2 separate regions of the Homo sapiens genome follow, and region 2 is linked to region 1. Evidence: fine-mapped expression QTL. A gene starts in region 1. The other region holds a variant in brackets. All regions are shown on one strand. Distances are from middle to middle.

Evidence for each region.
Region 2: its variant is fine-mapped to the expression of DMKN in whole blood (TOPMed, PIP above 0.99). The same link has a PIP of 0.9 or more in blood mononuclear cells.

The regions. Positions count from the first base shown.
Region 1 is chr19:35,511,909-35,514,813 of GRCh38, forward strand. DMKN (dermokine) reads right to left here and starts at 1,741. Exons shown (of 16, transcript NM_033317.5): 1 at 1,142-1,741; 2 at 682-882; 3 at 513-569. The coding sequence starts at 1,567.
Region 2 is chr19:35,481,634-35,484,538 of GRCh38, forward strand. No RefSeq gene overlaps it. Among named protein-coding and RNA genes, the nearest start is that of KRTDAP, 7.4 kb to the right of the region's middle. The variant G/A (reference allele first, on the strand shown) is at 1,667.

The DNA of each region.
Region 1 (2,905 bases):
GCTTGGCTTCCTTTCTCCTAATGTGTTTCTCCCACCTCCCCTTCCCATCTGCCTCCTCCCCAGGCCCAGGCCCGTCTCTTCCTCCTTTTTTTTTTTTTTTTTTTTTTGAGACAGGGTCTCACTCTGTTGCTCAGGCTGGAGTGCAGTGATGCGATCTCGGCTCACTGCAACCTCCATCTCCCAGGTTCAAGTGATTCTCCTGCCTCCGCCTCCCAAGTGGCTGCAATTACAGGCGCATGCCACTATGACCGGCTGATTTTTGTATTTTTAGTGAAGACAGGGTTTCACCATGTTGACCAGGCTGGTCTTGAACTCCTGACCTCAGGTGATCCACGTGCCTTGGCCTCCCAAAGTGCTGGGATTACAGGTGTGAGCCACCTCGCCCAGCCCCATCTCTTCCTCTCACCCCAATCCCTCCACTCCCCCATCTTGCTTTCCTCTTTGTCTTTCCCCAGCTCTCTGTAGCCTGCACCCAGTGGCTTCTTCATTTGTTCCCAGCCCCTTCCTCTTACCCCTTCATTCTGGTTGCTGGCTCTCACTGAACCATAGCCAGGCTGGGCCACAGCTCCCTGCAGAGAGGGTGAGACTGAGAGTAGGATCCAGAGGGACCAGGGAGGCACGCGGAGCATGTGGGCTTGGAGGGAGGGAGGTGGCAGGTAGCAGGTCTGGGGGTGACTTTACCTGAGTGTTGGTCCCAAAGTTTGGTGGCCCTCCATTGCCTCCTTGACCCCAGGGAGCTCCCTGAGGATTCATTCCAAAGCTGCCTGCTGAGTTTCCGGGGTATCCGTGGACCCACGGAGTCCCCAGACCTCCAGGATTGCCCTGGCCCTGGCCTCCAAGGCCACCTTGAGAGCCAAAGATGCCATGGCCTCCAGAAGTTTCCTGCAAGAACAACATACCTGCACTTAGTGGGACCATCTCTGACCCTGGTAGAGAAGAGCCAGGGCAAATCATAAAGAGACCAGGAGAGAGACAGGCAGAGGGACTCCAGGGTGGCATAGGAGGGGGGCAGAACATAGAAGGAAGCTGCCCCAGAAGCCTGCAAGTAAGAGATCCATCCATCCTTTCAACCGTTTCCCAAGAATCTCAGCCCAGCAGCCCACAGCCTCCCATTTCCACATGCAGCCCCACAGCCACTCACCCAAGCACCATTGTGGCCAGGCACCCCCTGCCAGGAGCCGCGGACAGCATCTGCTCCGTGTCGAATGACATCTTCTGCCTGTCTGCCAATCTCGTGCCCAGTGTTTCCCAGAGCATGGGCTGCTTCCCCGACCCTGTTGCCCAAAGCATCTGCTACGCCAAAGCCTGGAACCTGCCTGACTCCAGTGCCAACTGCTTCTCTGGTCCCTTGGCCAAGGGCCTCACTGACTTTAGAGCCAGCTGCCCCTCCGGCCTCTTTGCCAATGGCCTTTCCCACCCCTTCGCTCAGGGCGTCTCCCAGGCCATGTCCAAGGGCCTCCCCAATATTTGTCCCAGTGCTTTCCTCTCCGCTCTGCAGGGGGCCAGCCTCCCCACTGCCCAGGCAGAGGGCCAGCAGGAGGCAGGCCAGGGGCCCCTGGAACTTCATCTCTGCCCAGCCCCCTCTCTCTCCAGAGTGTCTTCCTCCCACCAGGGTCTCCTCCTTGCCGCCCTTGCTCTGCGTCTCTGTGCCCTCCTCTGTCCTCCTCCTTCCGACTCCCTGTCCTCCCTCCCTCTGGGTCTGCAGCCTTCTCTCTCCTGTCCTCAACTGCCTGGGCTTCTCAGAGTCCACCTCCCTGTCACTACTCCTTATACTCTAGGTTGGGAGAAGGTGACAGGGCTGGGCAACCTGAGGTCCCTCCCCGCAGTGACTCAGGGCCCAGCCACCAATAGGGTAATCAGCTGTTATTGTGAGTCTGAGAGTCTCTGTCGAAACAGAGAGTGAGCCGCATCAGGGAGGGAGGGAGAAATGGATGAGGTGATGCAAAAGTGCTCCCATTTCCCAACCCCAGGCATTCGGGGAGCTGGGTGGGGGCAGGGGCATCTAAGGAGACAGGTTGTCGTTGGCTCCTGGAGGCGGTGGGGTGGGGGCAGACTTAGAAGAGAGGAGTTACTGGCAGGACCCCACCAAAGGAGTAAGGACAGGGAAGCCCCAGGGGACAGGACCCACCCAGGCTCAGCCAGCCTGGCTCAGGGGCTCCAGAGTGACAGGCATTGCCCGTCCTCGGCCTGGCCTTTCTCGGTTTCAGCACCTCAGCCTCTCCTCTCCCTCTCCCCTCCCGCATTGCCACCTACAGGTGACTGCCTTCTTGTTCCTCCACACCTTCCAGCCCACAGAGAGAGACTGGCAAACACGGGGCTGCGTGTCAGTTTCTGAGATTCTGGGGAGAGCCCCCGGGGGGACCCTCGGTGTCGGGGAAGGAGGTGGCCATAGCCCTTTGAGTGGTCAGCAGGGTGTCTCAGCGTTCAGGCTGCTCCCGGCTGAGAAAGCTGGGCGCGGAGCAGGGCAGCCAGGCGCGCCAGCCACCCCCAGGGAACGAGTGGGAGGGAAGGCCAAGGGAGGGAGCCGCTGACCCAGGCACCCATCCTGTTTACGCAGCCCTAGAGGGGCACGTGTGAGTATAAGCGCCTATGAGGGGCGGGACTGGGCCAGCTCACCCCACCCATCCCCCAGGCCAGGGGCCAGGGCAGCAATGGCAAGCGAGAAGAGGGTAGCGCAAGGTCAGGAGCCATCCGTGAGAGCCACGGCCCTCTCCCCAGTCCCAGCTCGGGATACAGAACCTGGGAGCCTCCCCCCGCCTCACCCCTGCCCAGCAAGTGTGGCTGCTTCTCTATTCCCAGGGGCCACAGGGCCTCCCACTGTTTCGTATCACTGGGGTTCATCGCCCAGTTAGGAGGGGCCAGTTTCCATCAGCCTTTCTCAATGTCTCTCAGTCAGTCTCTCTCT
Region 2 (2,905 bases), 30 kb before region 1:
AGGTGTGCACCACCACACCTGGCTAATGTTTTTGTATTTTTAGTAGAGATGGGGTTTCACCATGTTGGCCAGGCTGGTCTCGAACTCCTGACCTCAAGTGATCCGCTTTCCTCAGCCTCCCAAAGTGCTGGGATTACAGGCATGAGCCACCATGCCCAGCTTACTTTTCCACGATTTATCACCCTTTGTTAAAACGGTATATGAGCCTCAAGCCTGGCCACTTCTTTAGGTTTTCACTTCTTTTCTGTGAAGCTCCTGGATGCATGCATAATAAGCCTTTTCTCCTGCTAATCTATCTTTTGTTAATTTTTTTTTTTAAGATGGAGTCTCACTCTGTCGCCCAGGCTGGAGTACAGTTGTGTGATCTCGGCTTACTGCTACCTCTGCCTCCCAGGTTCAAGCAATTCTCCTGTCTCAGCCTCCTGAGTAGCTGGGACTACAGGCATGCGCCACCATGCCCAGCTAATTTTTGTATTTTCAGTAGAGATGGCGTTTCACCATATTGGTCTGGCTGGTCTCGAACTCTTGACCTCAGGTGATCCACCTGCCTCGGCCTCCCAAAGTGCTAGGATTACAGGCATGAGCCACTGTGCCTGGCCTCTTTTGTTAATGTAATTAGCATGCCACAGCCACTGAACCTAAGACAGTAGAAAAAAATGTTTTTTTCCTTCCCTACAGATGCTAGCCTACATTCATTATTTTATTAAATTTTGAAAAACGAAAATATTCTATTATTTCTTTTGCATTTATTAGTTTCAAATTCTCGTATAAAGAAAAATTGTGCCAGCTGGGCATGGTGGCGCATGCCTGTAATTTCAACACTTTGGGAGGCCAAGGCCAGAGGATCACTTGAGGTCAGGAGTTGAAGACCACCCTGGGCAACATAGCAAGACACCCATCCTACAAAAAATTTAAAAATATACCAGGTGTGGTGGCTTGTGCCTGTAGTTCCAACTACTCAGGAGGCTGAGGCAGGAGGATTGCTTGAGCCAGGGAGGTGAAGGCTGCCTCCAGCCAAGATCATGCCACTGCACTCCAGCCTCGGTGAAAGAGCAAGACGCTGTCTCAAAAAAAAAAAAAAAAAAAAAAGAGAGAGAGAGAGAAACTGTTTACCCTGAAGTATATAGTTCATAGAGGAAAGTAAGGATGAATCCTTGATTCATTTCCTTTATTTACCAGTTTTTTAAATGAGTTGATTCCCAGAAGCCTCCCAAAGTAATCACTTAGTTTGGCTTTGGTTTTTAGTCCCTTTATGTCCTGGCTGAGTATGACAGGGACTTTTTTTTTTTTTAAGTTCATTTATGAATGCCAAATTCAAAGTTACTTTCCCCAGTTTTCTTACCCTGGTGCAAAACTATCTCCTCCCTTCTGTCAGATTTAAACATATCGTTCTAAGGTATCTAGTGCCTTCTCCCTGGATGCTTCCTTTATCGTAAGTATCAACTGGATCATAACTCCTTGAAGGCCTTCTGCATAGCACTCAACATCATGCCCAAGGCCGTGCTTCTCAAACGTTATTCCACATGTGAATCATCCAGGGGCAGGGGTCTTGTTAAAATTCTGATGCATTAGCTCTGGGTGAGCAGAGCTTCTGCATTTCTAGCAAGCAAGCACCAAGTGATGCTGATGCCGCTGGCTCGGGGACCACACTCTGAGTAGCAAAAGG[G/A]TGTGGTAAATGTGAGAAATCAGTTTCATTCATTCAGTTAAGAGGCACCTACTCTGGGTCACTGCATGGACTAGGCCCTACCACTTTACAGTGCAAAGCGTTTTTTTGGTGTTTGTTTGCTTTACTAGAAAGTTTTGATTTTAATTTATTCTTTTGAATATGTAATTTGCACATGGTAAAACATTTTTGTTCATAAAATCCAAAAGGGTACACAGTGAAAGTATCTAACTTTTCAAAAGTTATCACTGTTACTTCTCAAGTTTTATTCCAGATAATAGCAGATAATATGCAGATAATAGCATATATTTGTACCATATCTTTATTTTAACCACATGGCAGCATAATGATCTGCCACTTTCTTTTTTTCATTTTACTCTATCTTGGAGATTGTTTCATAGCTCAGTGTATATCTCTACATCCTGTTGAACAGATGGTATAGTATCCACACAAGATTCATTTGTTGGCCAGGCATGGTGGTTCACACCTGTAATCCCTGCACTTTGGGAGTCCAGTGCAGGCGGATCACCTGAAGTCAGGAGTTCAAGACCAGCCTGGCTGACGTGGCAAAACCCCATCTCTACTAAAAATACAAAAATTAGCCGGACATGGTGGCGGGCACCCATGTAGAAGATGTAATTCCATCTTCTCAGGAGGCTGAGGCAGGAGAATCGTTTGAACCTGGGAAGCAGAGGTTGTGGTGAGCCAAGATTGCACCACTGCACTCCAGCCTGAGCAACAGAGTGAAACTCCGTCTCAAAAAAAAAAAATGCATTTGTTATTGTTTTTATAAAGTATAAAATGAAGAGTGACTACTTCCTGCCTTTTATTAAATAAAGGTTATTTAATAAGATTTGCTTATGCAGATTCAAGTCTCCAGTGTTGAGTTATCTCCTCTACCTGATGGGAAATGTACAGGTCATCCCCAGGGAGAACAGGTGCTATGTCTTCCATTCTTTGAATCCTCTGAATGGCCTGACCCATGTTTGTGCATTTTGTCAATTTCACATGATCTAGCTAGTATACATCTGTCACTCATGTGCACAGCTTGTCTACACTTCACTTTGTCTTTTTCTTTTTGGTTCAGATTGCAGTCTCTCTAGACTCCAATTGTTTCTTGACTGTGTATTCTGTCAGCACTTGCAAATTGATCTGGTGTTCTCTGGCTTTAATAATATGTTATTGTGAAATACAACATGCATAGGTGTGCATAAAATGTACATATTTAAAGAAGAAATGAAA